Homo sapiens: one gene and its partner. The protein of the gene in region 1 interacts with the protein of each later gene in a pairwise test. Each region holds a gene or a part of one and is shown on either strand. Other genes may lie near its edges.

What was found.
Region 2: the proteins of PLAAT5 (region 1) and ZNF783 interact in binary tests that used the Homo sapiens proteins (3 or more experiments, as listed by UniProt).

Annotation. Positions count from the first base shown.
Region 1 is NC_000011.10:63,457,975-63,469,627, reverse strand, and holds the end of PLAAT5 (phospholipase A and acyltransferase 5), read left to right. Parts: intron 1-1,162; coding exon 1,163-1,271; intron 1,272-3,255; coding exon 3,256-3,518; intron 3,519-6,032; coding exon 6,033-6,125; 3' UTR 6,126-8,224; downstream 8,225-11,653. UniProt on the Homo sapiens protein: Exhibits both phospholipase A1/2 and acyltransferase activities. Shows phospholipase A1 (PLA1) and A2 (PLA2) activity, catalyzing the calcium-independent release of fatty acids from the sn-1 or sn-2 position of glycerophospholipids.
Region 2 is NC_000007.14:149,258,258-149,270,584, forward strand, and holds the start of ZNF783 (zinc finger protein 783), read left to right. Parts: upstream 1-3,938; 5' UTR 3,939-4,076; coding exon 4,077-4,100; intron 4,101-4,214; exon of another isoform or gene 4,215-6,253; intron 6,254-6,771; exon of another isoform or gene 6,772-6,810; coding exon of another isoform or gene 6,811-6,867; intron 6,868-8,077; coding exon 8,078-8,473; intron 8,474-8,561; coding exon 8,562-8,688; intron 8,689-8,839; coding exon 8,840-8,965; intron 8,966-12,327. UniProt on the Homo sapiens protein: May be involved in transcriptional regulation.

The DNA of each region.
Region 1 (11,653 bases):
TTTGTGCACTTTGCACTCACCCACACTTTTACAGCCTTTCCTTAATTGTAAATTCTCATGTTCACATTTTCCATATCTTTTTAGTATCACTTTTGGGAATGAATCTTTTATACCCTGTTTTGGCCAAAGGTCTTGGGTGAAATGAGAACATGTAACTGGGTGTTTCGCTACCATCTTGTGTCTCTCCATATTCCAGGGCTCTTTTCTTTGCTCCAGGTAGTTGATCAGGTCTGGCTTAGAGACAGCAATACCATTTCTAGGCTTCCAGCGGAGTCCTAACATCTTAGCTATGGATTTCCAAAGACCTGCAGGTCACAGGGCCACAGAAGCTGGGTCTCTAGGAGATGATAACACAGCAGTGAAGGTGCAACCTGGAGCTCTGGTCAAATATTTTTTAAAAAGATGGATGCTTATGTACAACTCTATGCCTACCTATTCATGTATATTCTCATTCTCTCTCTACCTGTCTCTCTCTCTCTCTCACACACACACACACACACACACACACACACACACACACACACGATAATAGAGAAGTTTGCATTTGCTGGGCAAGCAGGACTGAAGTGGCTATTAGCAACTGGTGGTGTGGGTGTGCAGAGGATGGGGGCACCCTCTGGGCTTCAGGTGGGTCACGTGGGGGCCCTGCAGAGGGAATCAGGGTGCCAGCAGGGGCAGGAGGCCTTGAGGATCCTGGGTCTGAGGTAGAACTCTACTAGATGTCCACACACCCACACTACTGACCATCATCCTGCCCACCCCAGCCAGAAACTGCAGGAGAACCCCTTTGTCTTGCAGTACAAGAGAAAGCCAGCACCCTTTACTGAGAAGGTTTAACATCTTACTTGCTTTAAGGAAGAAATGCTTAAAACAAGTTTAGTCATCTATCACAGGGTATATATTGGAGGATACATTCACAGCTGAGAGGCAATACATTGATAACTGGCACGGGTATCCTTGATGGCTTTAGTAATGTGAGTGGGGTAGGAGAGGAGGGGACTTCTTTGGTCCTCAGTGTGAAGAGAAATTTCTTTAGCTTGGGTTTCTGTGAAGTGATGAACCACACTGAGGGGATCTTTAGGCTGAGCTGTCCCTGATCCTAAAACAAGGTCTCTGGAGTTCCTTGAGCATGTGCCATTTATCTTTTATTTTTCCATTATAGGGAAAACCAAGACCCAGACCTGGAGACCTGATTGAGATTTTTCGAATTGGCTATGAGCACTGGGCCATCTATGTAGAAGATGATTGCGTGGTCCATCTGGCTCCCCCAAGTAAGAGTGAATAGTCTATTGAAATACTGATATTGAAGTTAGCAAAGTAAATAGAAGCACAGTTAATTACTGTGTTCCTCAGTTACTGCCATTCTTTAGCAATGGGACCCCTTGAAGCATGACTGGACCTTTGCTTACTGTGTGACAGAGCTTGGTCTCTGTTCACCAAAAACCAATGAGTGTCCAGGCCTAAGAGTGATACAAGTGTAAAGAGCGTGGCCCAAGTTCCCTGACCTCCTAGAGGGCCCTTTGTTTAAATACACACATTTTAGAACTTGAGCTCCATTTTGTATTGACAAAAGTTGAGCATCTATCCTCATCTTTCTGAGGATTCCCCAAGGAGGGTGCAGATGCTCACATGTTCTGATCGTCATTTGTTTTCTATAGTCCTCAGACACTGCATCTGGCTTCTTGATCACCTTTGGCACCTTCGTCCTCACCTTGTCTCGCTGCTGTTCCAACATGCTCCTTGCTGTTTCACCCTAAATGTAGATACAGCCCTCTTTTCATTTCTCACAGCTGCTTAACATATGGCTGAGATTCAATTTGTGTTAATTAAATCTTAGTGGAGATTTGATGGGGGAGGAGGTGATGATAGTAGAGGAAGAGTACAGCAAAATGGGAAACAACTTAAAATTGGGTATCTAGAACTGCTGGTCACAGTGGTTATCTCAGGAGATGAGGCCTGATAAGGGTTGGGGTTTGGGAGAGGAAGGGGTAGGTAGACCCTGTTGAATACCATTGAATGCACTTTGAATGCTGTCTCCTGTGCAGGTATTGCCAGTTCAAAGTTGAATTACAGAAGGGCACTATACCAAAGGCCTTTGGTCCTAACTTGTTCTCAGCTGTCATCCCTGTGTCCTGTCCTCTTCCTCTGGCCCAGTCTCTCACCATGCAGGGATGTTCCCATGGAGCAGAGCCCCTTTCTCATTGCCTCTCTTCTCTGCCCCATCCACTCATACCCTTCCCACTTCTTGTCTCAGAACCTACTCAAAGAATGTAGAAATTCATCTCTTCTTTCCAGACTAAGTCCAGGAGTTTCCCTCTTGTACAACCACAGAGATACTTATCAGTTATGTCTTCCCCCACCCCTATCTTGCTCTCTGAAAATGAATTCTGCCATTTCTGCTCCTGAATGCTGAATTATCTATTGCCAGCTTTTATAAAATCAGCAGATTTTCTTCAAATTTGTAAGAAAAGATCATGGAGCATTTCTTGCCCTTGGACAACTTATAAAGGGAAGGGTATACACATTCGCATATCAACATGGTTGTAGCAGTGCTACTTTAAATGACTACCCACCCAGCTTTGGGCAGGTTCCTGACCCTCTTTCAGTCTCTGTCTCATCTCAGGGCTGAATATGATAATGTAGCACCTTTCAAACATTTCTTTTTTCAAAGCTGTGGAACCCTGTTTTCAAACATACCCTTAATGAGAATCCCCGTATTTGAGTAGAGGTCAGTCAAGTGGCTGTAGGTGGAAGCTGGCAGGAGCAGGTGCCATTCAGAGCCCTGCTTGGCTGGCTTCCCCTGTGTCCCTGTGGCAGCCCAGAGGGAGGCGTGACATGGAACCACCATAATCATGTATGTGATAGCCTTTTACCCATGAGCTGACACTTACATAGAGAGTGCTCTTTACATGTTTGTGAAGATTACTGAAGTCTTCTCAGGAAATGAGACTCAAATCCTAGGACTTGGGTAGGTCAGTGCAACACAGTCTGGGACCACATGGGAAGGTGCTCCAAGAGTTTAATGAGAAAGAGACTCCTGTGCGGGTTGAGAGCAGGGAGTGAGGCGCAGGGCAAAGGGCTTCTCAGGAAAGTTGATTCTCTGCGGTTCTTTGATTCCAACTTCCCCTCTTCTGCCACCCTTCTACTGATGGTGCCAATGAGACTCCAGGGGAAGCAGCTTACTCAGAGTCTTAGACTGTGCTCTGCTTTGCTACTCCTTGTATTTCCCAACCTTTGTTTGTCTTTGGTCTCCAGGTGAGGAGTTTGAGGTGGGCAGCATTACTTCCATCTTTAGCAATCGGGCCGTGGTGAAATACAGTCGTCTGGAGGATGTGCTGCATGGCTGCTCCTGGAAGGTCAATAACAAGCTAGATGGGACGTACCTGCCCTTGCCGGTGGACAAGATCATCCAGCGTACAAAAAAGATGGTCAACAAGATCGTGCAGTACAGCCTGATTGAAGGGAACTGTGAGCACTTTGTCAATGGCCTCAGATATGGCGTACCCCGGAGCCAGCAGGTGTGACCCCATTTGCTCTGATGATGGCTTCTTCCAGAGCTTTCTTGGGGTTTGTCATTTCATTAGTGATCAGAATGGTAATCAGGGCTTTCATTATATTATTCGTTATACTAGTAGGGCCTTCTATTTCTGCAGGACTTTATGGTTCAGGAGGTATTTTCACCTTTATTAACCCAGGGAGGAGTAGAAAAGGCACTGGGCTAATAGTAAGACCAGCGATTGGAGCCCCAGCTCAACTATTAACTAGAGGGGTATCCTTGGTCAAATCAGTATATTTCTGAAAGCTTTTCTTTCTTTTCTTTTTTTCCCCTCTTTCTTTGGAGACAGGATCTCACTCTGTCACCTAGGCTGGAGTGTAATGACATAATCATGGCTCATTGCAGCCACAACCTCCTGGGCTCAGGCCGTCCTCCTGCCTTAGCCTCCTGAATAGCTGGGACTTCAGGTGTGCATCACCACACCCAGTTAATTTTAATTTTTTTGTTGAGAGGTGGTTTTGCTATGTTGCCCAGGCTGGTCTTGAACTCCTGGGCTCAAGTGATCCTCCACTTCGACCTCCCAAAGTGCTGGGATTACAGGTGTAAGCCACCGTGACTGGCCAAAGACCATTTCTTCCTTAACAAAGCAGGGATAAGCAGAAGCAGATACTCTGTTGATAAAATTGCAACCTAGTACTTTGTGGGCCACATCTTGGATACACACACACACACACACACACACACACACACACACACACACTTTTTGTTTGAATTACTTGCCAATATTTAAAAATATAGAAATTTTATATAAAAAGATGTAGGTTCTCAGCTTCTCTCTCTCTCTCTTTTTTTTGAGACAGAGTTTTGCTCTGTCGCCCAAGTTGGAGTGCAGTAGTGCAATCTCGGCTCACTGCAACCTCCGCCTCCTGGGTTCAAGCGATTCTCCTGCCTCAGTCTCCCAAGTAGCTGGGATTACTAGGTGTGCGCCACCACGTCTGGCTAATTTTTGTATTTTGAGTAGAAATGGGGTTTTGCCATGTTGGCCAGGCTGGTCTTGAATGCCTGACCTCAGGTGATCCACCCGCCTCGGCCTCCCAAAGTGCTAGATTACAGGCATGAGCCACTGAGCCTGGCCCTCAGCTTTCTTTTTAACATACAATTGATCAGGCCACTGGGCTGGCATTCCTACTTGCTGACACTCTGTAGGGACATGCTGTGGCTTTGCAGGGGATAAGGGGTAGGTATGTCACCCACCTGCCTCACTCACATTACCTGCCTGGCCTATACTGCATTTGGCTCTGTCACTTCCTCCCATATAGAGAAGTAATAAATTCATGTAGTTCAGTGCATGTGAAATAACTTTGAATCCTAAATGTATGTGAAAACTTGGGCTATTCATGTTAATAGGTGATCCTTACTAAAACTCCATGAGATGAGCAGAGAAAGCATTTATTATCACTACTCCCCTTTTTTTTTGAGACAGAGTCTTGCTCTGTCACCCAGACTGGAGTGCGATGGCGTGATCTCGGCTCACTGCAACCTCTGCCTCCCAGGTTCAAGCGGTTCTCCTGCTTCAGCCTCCCGAGTAGCTGGGACTCCAGGTGCACGCCACCATGCCCAGCTAATTTTTGTATTTTTAGTAGAGATGGGGTTTCACCATGTTGGTCAGGATGGTCTCAATCTCTTGACCTCGTGACCCACACGCCTCAGCCTCCCAAAGTGCTGGGATTACAGGCGTGAGCCACCACACCCAACCTATTATCCCCCTTTAAAGAGATGGAAAAAATTAAGGATTAAAAGAAGAACATAATTATTCTATTTTTTTTCTATGTTTCTTCTGTTGTCTAAGCAGATTGGGCTCACATTCCAATGTTAGTCTCTGCTTTTGCCAGCCCATCCTCAGTGACCATTGGCAGCCTCCCTGCTGTGCCCTTTACTTTCTGCACCTTCCTCCTCTCTGCTCTGCATCCTCTCCAGCCTGCACTCCATTCTTGTGAGGCTTTTCTCTAGTGTCCGGGGCTTGGTGGGCCCTGGTGTGAGAAACCTCCCGTCCCGTGAGAATTTGCACATGAAGACCCCAAGGACTGAGGGCATTACAAGAAGTCCTCTGAAGAAGCTTGGGCCTAGGAGTCATGAGGCCCAAGAACCCAAGAGCTAAGTTTGGACATGAATTCACTGTATGGCTCTGTCCAAGTGAGTTCCGCTCCCTGGCTCTTGGATCCCCTGTTTGTAGAATGAGGGCCTCAGTGGCTGTGGTGCTGTGAGATCCTTTGCCTCTGAGCCCCACACTGGAAGCAGACCCTGGGCCAAATGGCACAGAGGGAGGAAGGGGTTGTCTGTCTCCAACAATCCTGGCTTTTCTTGGTCTCTTGTCACTCTAGGAGTTTTGAAAATATAAGATAGCATGGACTGCTTCTTCTCTTGGGAATAGACTCCAGACAGGCTGGTTGCTGAATGGGTATGGTGGGGTGGAGGTAGGGGAGGGTGCAAGCCTAGGATTGGTACTGATTGTCCTGTGAACTGATGTGCTTTGCAGGTAGAGCACGCCCTGATGGAAGGAGCGAAGGCTGCTGGAGCAGTTATTTCAGCTGTAGTGGATAGCATAAAGCCCAAACCAATAACTGCCTGAAGGTGATGAAAACTCCAGCTAGAGGAAGAGTTACTGACACAAGCAAAAAGAACATGCTTCCTTCCCTTGCCTTCTCTCAATGGCTCCGATTAAGAAAATTGTGAACTTCTGGAAGAATCTACAATGTATCCAATTACCCTTCCAGAAATACATCCAATATATACGAGCATAGACCCACAGACTCTCAGGATGGGAAGGATCTGGTATCTAGTGTGTATCTCTTATGCGCCAGGCACTGTGCTAGGCATTTCATATACGGATCTAATTTCACTCTCTTTGTAGGATGGGACCTTGCTTGTGTCTTAGGCTGACCTTGGTCTCCGATGCTTGAGTGCCATCAGAAACATCCCAGAAACCTCTGCTTGAATATTTCCAGTAACGAAGATGTCTTTTTCCAGATGTTCTTTTTATTTAACTAAAATGTCTCTAGCTTCTTTCCATTTATGATAATCCTGCCCTTTTCGACCCACAGTGTAGCTCAGAGGAGGAGGACCTTAAGAAAAACTGAGATTCGTTATTCAGGGCCCATGGTACCTTAATCTAGAAACACATATCCCAAGAAATATTTTCTTTTTAAAATTATACATCAACTTTATGCCTTATTGTTTAAAAATCTTCTATCAAAAGTATCATCGATAAGACAATTTATCTTGCTTTTGTACCTCATAATTACCCTAAAATGTGAAGTTTCTAGTCTCACTGATTTCAGATGAATATTTAAAATAATTTGATAAGTTTAATCAATTGAACTCTACTGTGTGAGTGAGGGAGAGAAAGGAGTTATTTTTGTGTTTTGAAGAAAGTTGACAGGATGGAAGATCTGAAATTATGGCTGGGGATTGTAGTGATAGCTGGTAGCTGAAACCACCCAAAAAAGCTAGAAAAGTGTTCTCTTATGCCTCCAGAGATACCTAGAAAATATGAAGAATGTGGAAAAGAGCAAGATGGAACCCTCAGAGTGTTTCAGATAAGGTCTGTTGGTATCTCCATAAGCTTTTCTCCTATTTGGAGAAAATAGACTCTCACTGAAACTCTTCAATGTTTTTACCCTCCATCCTTTTCTTAGCAATCTAAACTCAATGGCCTCCTGTTCCCCAACACTGCAGTCTGGGCATCTGACTTTGTCTTCCCTCTGCACTCATTTCTGTGAATCATGACCAGGATGAAACTGATATCCCTAGTTCCTCTTCCCCATTTCTTCTCACACTCCCCTGCCTGAGAATCAGTTGAGTTCCCAATACCTCTTCCTTCAGTCTCTATTCATTATATGGTCTAGGTTGAGACTTCCTTGGAAGCAGAACCTGAGTACCAGGAACTCATATTTTATAAAGTATATTTATTCCTTTTAGCTGCAAACTAACCCAGCCATGTTTTAGTGAATGCTTTAATCTGAAGATGACTTTGAGCTCATTGACCATATTAATCTTTCATCAAACAAACTGGATGTTGTTTCATTAACAAAAAACTCCTCCACACCAAGGAGTGTTTAGTAACTTCTGCACAGAGGACTCATCCATCTCTTGCTTATGTTTGGGACAGAAAGACACTTCTCTGGCTTTTTACTGGCTTGAACCCAATGGGACAGAGACTCTCTAGAAAGTTTCAGGGCTCACATTCACTTGTTTGTCCAAAAAATATTTTTGAGTGTCTCCCAAGTGCCAAACCCTGGCTACTCCCACCTTTGCCTGAGCCCATGAGCGGTAGTCTGGGGGCTGGATGTGAGGAGTTCTGAGTTGGCTAGGAAGACACAAGGCACAATGGACATGGGGCAAAGTCCACTTGCTGGACATTGGTCCCTTCCACTTCCAAGCTGTCCATCAGGCTGAGAGATCTGGAATGCATACCCCACACTTTGAAGATGAGGAAGGGCGAGTTTCTCAAAGTGTGTGTGTGTGTTTCTCTTTTAATCTGTAATGGTTTCTGCATTTTGAGGTAGAAACAGAAATCTCTTTTTTGAGTGGGACCACTCGGGTGCGGCTTCTTAGTCTTGTTGATATAATAAAGCACATGCCCACTCCTCATGGAGTGGAGAGGAGAAAATTCTAAGGGAACGTACTCTGAATGCAAATGTTTCTGAGATTAAACACTAGTCACTTGTTTGTGTGCTTATTTTTCACTTTTTGGGAATGGGTGGGTGATTGGGGCAGTGGTGGTATTGGTTCACTTGGGCATGTCACATGGAGAATCAGAGAACTTGAAAGTGCTGGGTTCCTTAATGGTAGGGAGGCCCAGTACTAGTGACACATGATCCAGCAGGGGGCTGCGCACAATCCAGTTATTTTGCTTAATGATAGAAAAGATAACTTTAGGAAACAAACACCTCTGCAGAGATTTTAGAGCCATAAAGGAATCTGGTTTTGCTGCCTAGGGGTGGAGAACATGTCAGCCAGAGATGCCAACTGAAAAAAAGGGAATGGACCCCACCATAGGGGCAGCAGGGCAGAGGCGGCAGGGGAAAAGCCAGAAGGGACCCTTGGGTGACACCAGGAGTAGAAAGAAGCTGCTCTCTAGTTCCCAGTTTTAAGTTATTGTCACATACTCCCCTTTTGTTATCTTCAAGCTTTGTTATTCGCTGTTCTTGGGGAATAAAAGGAGAAGTATGGTTTGTGGTACCCAAAAAGTTTGTAGCTATGGAGAGAAGAGGCTCAGGACCAGTGGTGGTCCATAGGAAACAAGCAGACCAGAGAGGCACCATGTTGGTTGAAAATGTAAGCTACCTTTGGTATCCTCTGGAATATTTTGGGAAAGAACTGGATTTCCTGCAGTCATGTAGGAGCGGGGCTTTGTCAAAGAAGGAAGATTTTAAAGGGAAGGGTGATTCCTGACTCTGTAGGACTTGGGTCCTTATAACCCACATAGGCAAGTACAGCACAAAGGGCATAGGGGCTGGATATATAGCATTCTGGTGATCATAGGCCATTTTGATCTCCACACTGTTCCTCTAGAAACTTCTTATCACTTTAGGAGAACAACCAATGGTAATCCAAACTCTAAGAAGGCTATCTGAGCCACTTAAAGTTCTGTTCTCCCAAAGTTTCTGGTCGCATTATTTTCAAAGCCAATTTTCAGCTGGGCAGAATCTTTACTAGGAATCCAACTATTTGTGAACCCCATGCTGCTGCTTCTTGGCAGACAGCAAAAGTGTATTTTTTTTTTCCAGGAGTATGGTGGTATTTACTTTGTTTTAAAAATATTCTTGTTGGGGGTTCTGGCAAGATGGTCGAATAGGAACAGCTCCAGTCTGCAGCTCCCAGTGAGACCTATGCAGAAGGCGGGTGATTTCTGCATTTCCAACTGAGATATCCTGTTTATCTCATTGCGACTGGTTAGACAGTGGGTGCAGCCCATGGAGGGCGAGCATAAGCAAGGTGGGGCATCACCTTACCCGGGAAGTGCAAGGAGCAGGAGGCCTCCCTTTCCCAGCCAAGGGAAGCCATGAGGGACTGTGCTATCCCACCCAGATACTATGCTTTTCCCATAGCTTTTGCAATCCGCAAACCAGGAGATTCCATGGTGAGCCTACACCACCAGGGCCCTGGGTTTCAAGCACAAAACTGGGCGGCTGTTCGGGCAGACACCGAGCCAGCTGCAGAAATTTTTTTTTCATCCCCTGGTGGCGCCTGGAACCCCAGAGAGTCAGAACCGTTCACTTACCTGGAAAGGAGGCTGAAGCCAGGGAGCCAAGTAGTCTCGCTCAGCAGGTCCCACTCCCATGGAGCCCAGCAAGCTATGAATCACTGGCTTGAAATTCCTGCTGCCAGCACAGCAGGAATTGACCTGGGATGTTGACCTGGGATGATTGAGCTAGCAGAAGACAAGAAAAAAGTAACATCAGAGTGGAACTGAAGGAGACAGAGACACAAAAAACTTTTCAAATAATCTGAATCCAGGGGCTTTTTTTTTTTTTGAAAAAATTAAGGAAATAGACTGCTAGCTAGACTAATAAAGAAGAAAAGAGAATATCAAATAAACACAATAAAAAATGATACAGAGTTTCATTTGCATCCTTGTGAAGAGACCACCAAACAGGCTTTGTGTGAGCAACAAGGCTGTTTCACCTGGGTGCAGGCGGGCTGAGTCCGAAAAGAGTCAGCCAAGGGAGATAGGGGTGGGGCTGTTTTACAAGATTTGGGTAGGTAAAGGAAAATTACAGTCAAAGGGGGGTTGTTCTCTGGTGGGCAGGGGTGGGGGTCACAAGGTGCTCAGTGGGGGAGCTTTTTGAGCCAGGATGAGCCAGGAGAAGGAATTTCACAAGGTAGTGTCACCAGTTAAGGTAAGGACTGGCCATTTTAACTTCTTTTGTGGTGGAATGTCATCAGTTAAGGCAGGAACAGGCCATTTAAATATCACTTCTTTTGTGATTCTTCAGTTACTTTAGGCTATCTGGATGTATACGTGCAGGTCATAGGGGATATGATGGCTTAGCTTGGGTTCAGAGGCCTGACATTCCTCTCTTCTTATATTAATAAGGAAAATAAAACATAATAGTGTTGAAGTGTTGGGGCGGTGAAAATTTTTGGGGGTGGTATGGAGAGATAATGGACGATGTCTGTCGGGGCTGCTTCGAGCGGGATTAGGGGTGGCGTGGGAACCTAGAGTGTGAGAGATTAAGCTGAAGGAAGATTTTGTGGTAAGGGGTGATATTGTGGGGTTGTTAGAAGAAACATTTGTCGTGTAGAATTATTGGTGATGGCCTGGATACGGTTTTGCATGAATTGAAAAATTAAATGGAATAAGAGAAGGAGAAAAACAGGTATTAAAGGACTAAGAATTGGGAGGACCTAGGACGTCTAATTAGAGAGTGCCTAAGGGGGTTCAGCATAATTACTTGCTTGGTTGGCAAGTTTTTGGGCTCTATCCTTGAGTTTTTTTATGTTGTCATACACCAGGCCAGATTGATTTAGGTAAAAACAACACTCTTCATTTAAGAATATACAGTCTTCCTTTTTCAGTAGTGAGTAAGTCAAGGCCTCAGCGGTTTTGGAGGACAACTGCAGCTAAAGAGTCAACTTAGGCCTGGAGGACTGATAAAGTTTGTGATATGTCTGTGATGCTAGCAGAGAAGTCATTAGAGACGCTACAGAAGGTCATGACAGAGGTTGAAATGCCTGTTATTGCAGTACCGAGAGCAATAGGGGAGGCAGAAAGTCCTAAACCGACAAGCAAGGGAATTAGTGGAATAACTCTTTTTTGTCATGTTGGTGTCATGAGGGGAACAGGGAACTCTTTGGTTCTATTTGCAAATTGAATTTTGGGGGTAAGGAAAACTAGTGTGCATGTGCCTGTCCAATTAGCAGGTAGACACATGTAGGTAGAGGATCCACAGAGGAAGAAGAGACCTTGTGTGAGGCAAAACTGGAGACGCAAAGTAAAAAGATGAGAAGGAGGGCTGAAAGGGGTGTCTTTTACCTAGACTCCTAGGGATCGAGCTAGGGCGGCAGCCATCAGAGGTTGTAATGGGGACTAATGGGGTAACAGCGTAGAGGGGAAGGTTTGATTTTCATGGTGTAGGAGAAAACGTTGAGTGT
Region 2 (12,327 bases), on another chromosome or scaffold:
TAGAGTTTGTTCACTCACAAATATCTGAGTATCCTCCCTGTGCAGAATTCTACAGAGGGGTACAGGGATAAATCTTGCTCTTGGACTTACAGGCTACTAAGGGAATATAAGATAGAATAGTAATGTCTTCAGATAAGTGAGGGTAAAAGGCTTTAAGCATTCAGAGAACAATTATTTTAGATGTGAGACATTAGGGAAGACTTCGTGATAGGTGGTATTTGAACTGGCCTTTTAAGGATGGGAGGAAGGACATTCTAAATGGAGGTGACATGACCAAGTCAGGAGACATTATGGGACATGTACAGAAGAGGAGTTCATCCAATTTCGGGAGGGTGGAGTGTGAGAAGGAGAGTAGTGGGTGTTAAGAGTTGGGTCAGGCTTCAAGGAGTCTGGATTTTATTCGGTTGATAATGGGGAGCTGAAGAATTTTGAGCAAAAGAGTGACCTGATTCTAGCTGTGATTTGGGAATACTAATAAGAATTATACTGTGCTTTTTGGGGGGTGTGAGGTTTGGGATATGTTAGAAGGTTTCAAGTGAGATCAAGGAAGAGCCAGTGAGGACCTACCTGATTGGGTGCAGCTGCAGTGGGAAGGGAACAATAGATAAGACCAAGAAACAGTCACAGGATGTGATGCTGTGGGAATGGAGGGACCATTTTTTTTTTTTTTTTTTTTTTTTTGAGACGGAGCCTTGCTCTGTCGCCCAGGCTGGAGTGCAGTGGCGCCATCTCAGCTCACTGCAAGCTCCGCCTCCTGGGTTCAGGCCATTCTCCTGCCTCAGCCTCCCAAGTAGCTGGGACTACAGGCGCCTACCACCACGCCCGGCTAATTTTTTGTATTTTTAGTAGAGACGGGGTTTCATCGTGTTAGCCAGGATGGTCTTGATCTCCTGAGCTCGTGATCCGCCCGCCTCGGCCTCCCAAAGTGCTGGGATTACAGGCGTGAGCCACCGCGCCTGGCCTCAGGAGGGACCATGTCTTACTCCTATCAGCCTCCACAGCTCTCAGCACAGGTGCTTGGCACATAGGTGCTCAGCAAATGTTTGCTGAATGAGAAAGTATAATGGGTGTTCACAGAATAGAGAGCTGGGTGTTGTCTGAAATAGAGAAGGCTTCTATGGAGGAAGTGGGATTTGGCTGTACTTCTGGTCTCCCTCTACTAATGCTTCCGTTCCTAACATCTTTATAATTCTGTGTGGGTCCACCTCCTAATCTAAATTACATTCCTGGCTTGGAGGATGAGGGAGCCACAGGAATTCTGTCTCTGACCTGCCACTATCTCTTGGCTGAGGATGTTCTGGTGGGGACAATGGCACTTGAGTGTGCTGACCTCTTGTTGAGTGACCCTGGGTACTACTTTGGTGGCCCTCAAATTGTGACAACCCTACCTTCTGCAGGTGGAGTCACCCTTGTTACTCCACGGACTGGGCCTCCACTGGATGTTGTCAGTTCACCCAGAGATAATCAGGTCCTGGAAATCTGATCCCCCAAAAAACAAACTCACAAGAGACAGATTAACAATTAAAGATGAATGTAGGCTGAGCGTGGTGGCTGATGCCTGTAATCCCGGCACTTTTGGAGGCCGAGGTGGGTGGATCTCCTGAGGTCAGGAGTTTGAGACCAGCCTGGCCAACATGGTGAAACCCCGTCTCTACTAAAAATACTAAAAATTAGCCTGGCATGGTGGCAGGAACCTGTAATCCCAGCTACTCGGGAGGCTGAGGCAGGAGAATCTCTTGAACCTGGGAGGTGGAGGTTGCAGTGAGCCGAGATCGTGCCATTGCACTTCATCTTGGGCAACAAGAGCGAAACTCCGTCTTAAAAAAAAAAAGCCACCATGTAATTTTAATTTATATCAGAGCTGGCTTGACACCCCGGCTGGTCTGCTCAGAAACCACATTATGGTGCAAAGTGTTCGTTTATTAAATATATTTATAAAATCTGAGCATGGGAATGGGAGGTAGCTGTGGGACCCTGATAAACAGTGCCAAGGTTTTCGAACTGTGATCACCAGACCAATAGAATCAGCATTTCTTGGGAACTAGTTAGAATTGCAAATTCGCATCACTTTCATCCCCTCCTGTTTCAGACCTAGAAATGTTGAGGTTTGTGCCTAGCATCCTGTATTTTTAACAAGAACCCTCAGTGAACATGATGCACACTGAAGTTTGAGTACCACTGACTTAGAGAAACTTTTTTTCTAAAAAACGAAGACTAGCTGTCAAACATTATAGCACTCTTTCCTCAACAGAGCTCATTAAATCCTAGCATTTTTGTCTCCAGCCCATTTTCCTGACCCTTTCTTTCTTTCTTTTTCTTTTTTTTTTTTTTTGAGATGGGGTTTTGCTCTTGTTGCCCAGGCTGGAGTGCAATGGCATGATCTCGGCTTACTGCAACCTCTGCTTCCCGGGTTCAAGCGATTATCCTGCCTCAGCCTCCAGAGTACCTCACCACCACACCCAGCTAATTTTTTGTATTAGTAGAGATGGGGTTTCATCATGTTGGCCAGGCTGGTCTCGAACTCCTGACCTCAGGTGATCCATCCGCCTCAGCCTCCCAAACTGCTGGGATTACAGGCATGAGCCACGGCTCCTGGCCCATTTTCCTGACCCTTTCTGTTTGCATTGGACCTTAACTGTTATTCTATAACGTCACCATTTACTGGTATTTTATAATCCTGAATAGATTGGACTGATCCCTGATAAGATCCTAGGGATGCTCTTAATGTCTTTAGTGCATACTTGCAGTTTGTGTTTTAGATTGGGATAGTTCAACAAGAATTTCCAAAATGAATAATGCCAAATATTTATTTGATTTGTTACCTTAAAGTAACACGTCCTAACCTTTCCGCAAATTTTGGGGTTCACCTTACTTAGGATATCAGTTTGTGTTTTTTCTGATAGTTGACCACGCTTTTGCTTGGCTCAAATATTTGTGAAAATAACTTCTCACCCTCACCCCCCCCCCCCAAAAAAGAAAAAACAAAACCAAAACCAAAAAACCCCAAACAAACCCAAACACAGAAAGAAACAAAACTGCAGATTTCTAGCGGGAAGAGTTTGCCAGCTTGTTGGACAAAGACTGTGAGATGAATGGGAAATGCAGAAAAGACAGAAAACAAAGCTTCAACTGCATACAGCACATTTAGTTCAATATGCCTCAGCACAGGCCGAGGAAAATGGGTCCTGCGGTTTATTCAAGATGCCTCAGGGCCTAAATGAGGGATGGACTGATTCACACTTGCTGTGATCTCAGCCTGGACCAAAGCTACAGAAGGGTCCTCGTGGGTGGCTGAGGACTTTCACCAGGCGGGCCCCGGGAGGAGGAAGGGACCCCAGAGTCCTCAGGAGGGGAGGGCAGGCTTAGGAAAAAAAAAAAAAAAATCCTACCATCTTCACGTTTGTTCTGTCAAATTTAAAAGAGACTTTAAAAACGTTCATGTAAGTTTCCCTGGCTTCTCCCTGGGTACACACGTATCCTTTTTACTTTCCCCAACTCAGTTCTGTGGTGCGTGGGAGGCGCTGCAACAGAGTCTCGGTCCGGACTGGAGCCCCGGCGAGGGCCGACCCCGTTCCCCACGCAGCTTTCCCTCGCGAGGTTTCGCACTTTCCAGCGCGGTTCCTTCCCGCAGCCCTCCCGGCTCCCGCGTGGGACGCAGAGAGAGGTTGGGCGCCGCGCTGGCCCGGGAGTGGCTTACGCCTGACGTAGCCCCGCTGGAGGCCGTGGCACGCCCGCCCTGGCGTCAACTCCCGCGCCCCGGGTGAGGGTGGGTGGCCGCGCCTGGGTCCCGGACGCCGCGGGCGCTGAAGGCCTCGGGAGGGCGCGGGGCGGCGGCCGCGGGCGTGCGGTCCTACGGGCTGCAGGGGGCGCTGTGCGCGTCCTCAAGCTCGGCCGCCGAGCGCAGCTCTTTTTTAAAGGGCCAGCGGGGCACGTGGCTCGGGACGCAGTTCGCTGCCGCCCGGCAGTAGCTCTCAGGTTAGGCGGGTCCCGCTCCGCTTCCGCCGTCGCTGCCGCGCCGCCCCGGGCCCGACAGGCCGGGTCCAGGGACTGCAACCCAGCGAGGGACGCGGGCAGCCATGGCCGAAGCGGCGCCTGCCCGGGTAAGCGCCCTCGGCCCCGCGGACGCCCGGAAGGCCCAGGCCGCCGCCGCGTGAGCCCGCGCGAGGGACTCTGGCCGCGCGAGGCCGCGGGGTGAGAGGGCCTTGCGCGCAGCCTCCGCGCTCGTTGCCCCCGGCCCATCGCCCAGCCCGCGTCGAAGGCATTGACCGGGCGGCCCAAATGCCAGGCCCGGCGGGCGGGGCCCCGACGTCAGCGGCTGACGATCCGGCCCATCTGCGGCCTCAGCCAGGCCGGGCCCCAGAGTCACGCTCGGCGACGAGGAGGCCGCGCCTTAGGAGTATTGTCCCATTTGAGGCCTCGCGGCCCCCCCTACAGCAGGCTGGGCGGGCAGGGGCCGCCAGCCCCACGGGACAGTAGCGGAGGCTGAGATGGGAAGGGACAGGCCCAGGGTCACGCATCTATTAGAGGCGGGAGCCTCACGCCGGGGCAGGGATTTTGGAATTAGACACTTTAAAACGCCTCATATTCTACTTTTGCCAAAGAGAAAGATTGTGTCGTTTACAAGAGAGATAGTAGATTTTTTTAAAAAAGATTACTGTAGCAGATTTTATTTAATTTTTTTTTTTGAGAGGGAGTCTCGCTCTGTTGCGCATGCTGGATGGAGTGCAGTGGCACGATCTCGGCTCACTGCAAGCTCCGCCTCCCGGCTTCAAGGGATTCTCCTGCCTCAGCCTCCCAAGTAGCTGGGACTACAGGCGCCTGCTACCACGCCTGGCTAATTTTTCTATTTTTGGTAGAGACTGGGTTTCACTATGTTGGCCAGGCTGGTCTCGAACCCCTGACCTCGTGATCTGCCCGCCCCGGCCTCCCAAAGTGCTGGGATTACAGACGAGAGCTACCGCGCCCGGCCATTTTAAAATTTTTTAATTAAAAAAGTATATATATATACGTGTGTGTGTGTGTGTGTGTGTGTGTGTGTGTGTGTGTGTATATATATATATATATATATTTTTTTTTTAGACACAGTCTCACTCTCACCCAGGGTGGAGTGTAGTGGCGGGATCTCATCTCACTGCAACCTCTGCCTCTGCCTCCCGGGTTCAAGGTATTCTCCTGCCTCAGCCTCCCAATCCCAAGTAGCTGGGATTACAGGCGCAGGTGCCTGTCTCATTTATATCTATCTATCTATCTGTCCAGATACATATCTATATGAATAAGTTTATTCATAAGAATACACTATAAGTATTCCTATACAGAATTTTTCTCCTGGAGAAGGAAGAATCACATCAGTTTTTTTGGCATCTTCATCTATATAAGTTAGGCCAGTTTAGCAGATTTTAGAATCTTGGTTTGATATAGTGCAGTATGTCCAATTGGGAGATTATAATCCTTTGGCCATTTTTGACATACTGGAAAACGCTTGTAAAGGCTCAATAGATGATACCTACTATTATTAATACACCTCAGTGAAGGTTTTGAAACCTTGATTTTTCTGGATACTTTTATTAAAGTATAACTTCCTCTCCCTCCTCTTAGTGAGTGTGCTGAGCTTCTTTTTGGGTTCCCTGAGTGCAAGGGAGAGAAAAAGCGTTGAGGATTCTGCAGGTTTATAGTCCTGTTCCCTGGGAAGAGGGGGCCCTAGAAGGTGACATCATCCACTCCCCCTAGCCTGGGGCTCACTGCTTCACTACCTTTCAGATCACTCCTGTCCACCTGCTCCTCCCTTCTTGCAGCACTTGAGATCCCAAAAAACTCCCCAAAAGGGACAGATTTGCCCTGGACTCTTGTTAGCCCATCCTATCACACTGTTGTTGTTTATAAGTATTCCTATACAGAATTTTTCTCCTGGAGAAGGAAGAACCACATCAGTTTTTTCTTCATCTTCACTGTACATTTACTATGATAGGTGTTCAGTAATTGTTATTGAATGAATGAAGCAATTATAGATTACTAGTGCTAAGGGGGAGGGGCAGTGAAAATCTCTAGGATGCGTTGTCTATGCTAGAATCTTAAAAACGAGAGAGACTCAGGCATACAGAGGATGCATATTGAGAGCTGATGTGAAGTTGGAGGAGGGCCGGGTGGGTCCTCGGAATCCACAGGAGGCTGGCATGGCTGGAGCACGACAGGAACTGGATGGCTCAAGGTCAAGAGAGGTCGGCTGGGCCATGAAGAAGTCTAGATCTTATGCCAGGTACACTGGGAAGCTATTGAAGAGTTTTAAGCAGGGTACTGAAATGATCTATTTGTGTTTTTAAAAGATTACCAGGCCGGGAGCAGTGGCTCACTGACTCACGCCTGTAATCCCAGCACTTTGGGAGGCTGAGGCGGGCGGATCACAAGGTCAGGAGTTTGAGACCAGCCTGGCCAATATGGTGAAAGCCTGTCTCTACTGAAAATATAAAAATCAGCTGGGTGTGGTGGCGGGCGTCTGTAGTCCCAGCTACTTGGGAGGCTGAGGCAGGAGAATCGCTTGAACTTGGGAGGTGGAGGTTGCAGTGAGCCGAGATTGCGCCACTGTACCCCAGCCTGGGCGACAGAGCAAGACTCCGTCTCAAAAAAAAAAAAAAAAAAAAGATTAACAATTACTCTGTGGAAAGTGTATTGTCGGGGAGAAGCCTGGAAGTAGGGGAGAAGGCTGGAAGTGGGGGAGAAGGCTGGAAGTGGGGGAGAAGGCTGGAAGTGGGGGAGAAGGCTGGAAGTGGGGAAATCAGGTGGGCAGGACCGCAGTGGCCCAGGCCAAGCAAGGTGATGGGAACTTGGACTAGACACTGGCAGTGGAGAAGGAGAAACATGGATGGATTTGAGGTAATTTTGGAAGTTAGGACCTGATGGTGATTTAACCATGAAGGATGAATGAAATTGAGGAGTGAGATGTTGATTTGTCTCTCCAACAAGGCTTTTAGCAGCACCAACCAGGACTGTGCCCATTGCGCATGCACAATGAGGGCTTGTGAATCAGATACCAGGGTAAGCTGAGGCACTTGAGAAGCTTTTTCCAAGGCACTGAAGGACAATGGAATAAAAGAGGTGGAGGTTAAAAAAAAGGCCATATGAACTATTTATACCATATCCCTGAGCTGGAACCATCACCATAATCACTGTCATTGTCTCAGTCTGCTCAGGCTGCCTTGGTTCCCGGCAGGGCTCTTTTCCTGGTTTGCAGACGGCTGCCTTCTCATTGTATCCTCACGTGGCATACAGCAAGATCATCTCCCTTGTGTCTCCTCTTACAAGGGCGCTAATCCTATTTATGAGGGCTCTGCCTTCATGGCCTAATTGCCTCCCAGAAGCTCCACCTCCAAATACCGGCATATTGGGGATTAATGCTTCAGCAGATGGATATTGAGGGAGACACAAGCATTCATTCCATAGCAGTCAGTGTCATCTTAGCCCTGCAACATGGGGCTCATGTTTATTATCTGTGCTGTGCTACACATTGTACTAAGTGCTTTGTACACAGATTTTTCTTAATTCTCTCAGTGCTATTGTATAGGTACTATTATTATCTCCATTTTCTAGATAGGGAAGGGAAGTTGGAAGCTGTTGAAAACACCTTGCCCACAGTTGGCCAGCTTGTAAGTGGCAGAGCTGAGTTGCACCTGGGCTGTCCACTGGGGAGTCATGTTCTCTGTGCCACAAAGCCTTGTCCTTTCATTTTTAGAAGAGGAAACTGAGACCCAAGAAGGGGAGTCACTTGTTTGAGACTGCACGTGGTTGCTCAAGCCTGTGGGGCATGCCCCGTCTCCATAGCTAGCCTGTAGGACAGGAGCCGGGGCTGTTTTTCTTCCACTTTCCCACTTGCTGACACGTTGGTCCAGCCACTATCTCTTGTATCAGTTAGGCTGGATTCCTAACTGATACCCTAGCCTCTCCCTCTCCCCCCCAGTCTGCTGCTAACTCAGGAGCCCAGATGGGACTTTACCATGGCAGGTGTCATTTCCGAAGTGTGTTTTTGAGGTGGAAGTTTTGATTGTATAATTCTCATAACATCTCTCTTTTCTCTTCTTGTGAGCAGGACCCCGAGACAGACAAGCACACAGAGGACCAGAGTCCTTCGACACCCTTGCCCCAGCCAGCTGCTGAGAAGAACTCGTACCTCTACTCCACGGAAATCACACTGTGGACGGTGGTGGCCGCCATTCAGGCCTTGGAGAAGAAGGTGGATTCCTGCCTGACCCGCTTGCTGACTCTGGAGGGGCGCACGGGGACAGCCGAGAAGAAGCTGGCCGACTGCGAGAAGACAGCTGTGGAGTTCGGGAACCAGCTGGAGGGCAAGTGGGCCGTGCTGGGGACCTTGCTGCAGGAGTACGGGCTGCTGCAGAGGCGGCTGGAGAATGTGGAGAACTTGCTGCGCAACAGGAACTTCTGGATCTTGCGGCTGCCCCCGGGCAGCAAGGGGGAGGCCCCCAAGGTAGCACCGGGACACCCTGGGGTGGGGGAGCTCGAGGGGCTGAGCCTGTGAGCGTGTGGGTGAGTGAGTGCGACACTTATGGTTCCAGGTGCCCGTGACCTTCGATGATGTGGCCGTGTATTTCTCTGAGCTGGAGTGGGGCAAGCTGGAGGACTGGCAGAAGGAGCTCTACAAGCACGTGATGAGGGGCAACTACGAGACGCTGGTCTCCCTGGGTAAGGCCACGGAGGGAGGATCTGGGCCTCTGTCCACAGGTTGTCTGTGGACAGTCTGTGTCTTTGCTTTGGCTTTTGGTACTTTGGGCATCTCTGCATCTCTGTGGGCATGTGGGGTCCAGCTCTTCCTCATTTCTTGTTCTGTGCACAGATTATGCAATCTCCAAACCAGACATCCTCACCCGGATAGAGAGGGGAGAGGAGCCTTGTCTTGACCGGTGGGGCCAGGAGAAGGGGAATGAAGTAGAGGTGGGACGTCCAAGGATGATGGGCACTGGTAAGTATAGGAGCCAGATGTGGTTGGGGGGCCGCCAGGGGCTAGCTGCACCATCGCCTACCCTCTCGGGCTTCCCAGACAATCAGGGAGGGCAGGAAGGGAGCATAGACCATTAACCCAAAGTGGGACCACTCTGTACAAGGCCACCCTGGGCAGGAGTGGGTGGCTGGCTTGAGCCATAGGGTTTCTATATCTGTCTAAGGTGGAACATCACACTCACCTTACGTGGTTGTGATGACTGAGTGATAAGTGTTAAGCATGTACATACTGATCACTTTATAATAGTGGAGACTGGCCTGGCGCGGTGGCTCACGCCTGTAATCCCAGCACTTTGGGAGGCTGAGGCGGGCGGATCATGAGGTCAGGAGATCGAGACCATCCTGGTTAACATAGTGAAACCCCTTCTCTAGTAAAAATACAAAAAATTAGCCGGGCGTGGTGGCAGGCGCCTGTAGTCCCAGCTACTCGGGAGGCTGAGGCAGGAGAATGGCGTGAACCCGGGAGGCGGAGTTTGCAATGAGCCGAGATTGCGCCACTGCACTCCAGCCTGGGTGACGGAGCAAGACTTCATCTAAAAAAAAAAATAATGGGGACTTAGTAATACCTCCACCAGCAGCACTGCTGCCTCCTGGCATCTTCACGTGTGTCCATGTCCCCGCTATTGCTTGTGTCCCCTATTGCAGTCCCACAACCCCAGCCTGTGGCAGGAAGGCATGTCACGTGCTGGCTTCCATTTGTGTACATGGCCCTTGGTAGGAGGGCCAGGCATGCCCTGTCCTTGTAGCTGGTATATAGGACAGTGGTTCCAAAGGGGACTGCACATCACAATCCTCTGGGGAGCTTTATTTTTTCAATTAAATTTTAATAAAGTAGAATAGCACAGCGAATCTCCAAATGATCGTCACCAAAACTCAACACTCTGCTGGGTTTTGCCACATGCGCTTCATCCATCTGTTTTTACCCTTTTCCTGAACAATGACCACATACCATGATCACACCCACAGAATATCAGAATATCATCTAATACCATCTAATACCTAGCCTTTGTTTTGTTTTCCCTAGTTGTCTCAAAAATGTTTTCTATGGGTCTTTGGATCCTAATTGTAATACACCCAAGTCCACATTTTACATTTGGTTTACGTCTCTGAAGTATATTAAAAAAACTTATGACAATCCCCCCAGTCTTTTTCAACAGCTTTATTGAGATATAATTCATATACTATATAATTCACCTGTTAAAGTGTACAATTGAGTACTTTTAAAAAAAATTTCAACTTTTAATTTGGATATAGGCATACACCTGCGGGTTTGTTACATGGGTATATTGTGCCCAGGTAGTGAGCATAGTACCCAAGCTTTTCAATCCATTCTCCTCTCTTTCCCTTCCCCCTGTAGTAGTCCACAGTGTCTATTTTTGCCAGGTTTATGTCAATGTGTGCTCATTGTTTAGGTCCCAGTTATAAGTGAGAACATGCAATATTTGGTTTTCTGTTCTTGCATTAGTTCACTTAGGATTATGGCCTTCAGCTTCATGTTGCTGCACAGGACATGATTTCATTCGTTTTTATGGCTATGTAATATTCCATGGTGTATATGTACCACATTTTCTTTATTCAGTCCACCACTGATGGACACCCAGGTTGATTCCATGTCTTTGCTATTGTGAATAACATTGTGATGAACATACGTGTGCATGTATATTTTTGGTATAATGATCTATTTTCCTTTGGGTATATACCCAGTAACAGGATTGCTGGGTCAAATGGTAGTTCTGTTTTAAGTCCCTTGAGAAATCTTCAAACTGCTTTCCACAGTGGCTGAACTAACTTACATTCCCATCAACAGTGTATAGGCATTCCATTTTCTCTACAGCCTCACCAGCATCTGACGGTTTTTGAGTTTTTAATAATTGCCATTCTGACTGGTGTGAGATGGTATCTCATGGTTTTGATTTACATTTCTCTGATGATTAGTGATGGTGAGCATTTTTTCATGTTTGTTGGCCGCTTGCATGTCTTCTTTTAAGAAATGTCTGTTCATGTCCTTTGCCCATTTATTGCTTGTTGATTTAAGTTCCTTATAGATGCTGGATGTTAGACCTTTGTCAGATGCATAGTTTCCAGATATTTTCTCCCATTCTGTAGGTTGTCAGCTTACTCTGTTGGTAGTTTCTTTTGCTCTGCAGAAGCTCTTTAGTTTAATTAGGTCCCACTTGTCAATTTTTGTTTTTGTTGCAGTTGCTTTTGAGGACTTAGCCAAAAATTCTTTGCCAAGGGCAATATCGAGGAGGGTATTTCCTAGGTTTTATTCTAGAATTTTTATAATTTGAGGTCTTACATTTAAATCTTTAATCCATCTTGAGTTACTTTTTGCATATGGTGAAAGGTAAGGGTCTAGCTTCATTCTTCTGCACATGTCTAGCTAGTTACCCTAGCAACATTTTTTTTAAATTTTATTATTATTATACTTTAAGTTTTAGGGTGCATGTGCACAATGTGCAGGTTTGTTACATATGTATACATGTGCCATGTTGGTGTGCTGCACCCATTAACTCGTCACTTAGTATTAGGTATATCTTCTAATGCTATCCCTCCCCCCTCCCCCCACCCCACAACAGTCCCTGGTGTGTGATGTTTCCCTTTCTGTGTCCATGTGTTCTCATTGTTCAGTTCCCACCTATGAGTGAGGGCATGCGGTGTTTGGTTTTTTGTCCTTGCGATAGTTTGCTGAGAATGATGGTTTCCAGCTTCATCCGTGTCCCTACAAAGGACATGAACTCATCATTTTTTATGGCTGCATAGTATTCCATGGTGTATATGTGCCACATTTTCTTAATCCAGTCTATCATTGTTGGACATTTGGGTTGGTTCCAAGTGTTTGCTATTGTGAATAGTGCTGCAATAAACATACGTATGCATGTGTCTTTATAGCAGCATGATTTATAATCCTTTGGGTATATACCCAGTAATGGGATGGCTTACCCCAGCAACATTTATTGAATAGGGAAGGGAGTCTTTTCACCATTGCATTTTTTTTAGTCAGACTACAGGTGCACGCCACCATATCCGGCTAATTTTTGTATTTTTTCGTAAAGACAGAGTTTCACTATATTGCCCAGGCTGGTCTCAAACTCTTGGGCTCAAGCAGTCCACCTACTTTTGCCTCCGAAAATGCTAGTCAGCTTTTTTAGTTACCCTGAGATTCAGTCTGCACTGAAAAGGCAGAATGGATGCTTAATTCTTTCCTTTATCAGTTTCAGAATGAATGAAGAGTTGCTGCCTTAGTAGCCTCCAAAGGTGACCCATGACTTGGGCTTCTTTTTTTTCCTGAGTTAAGTTATTGTGACTTCACAGATAATTGGA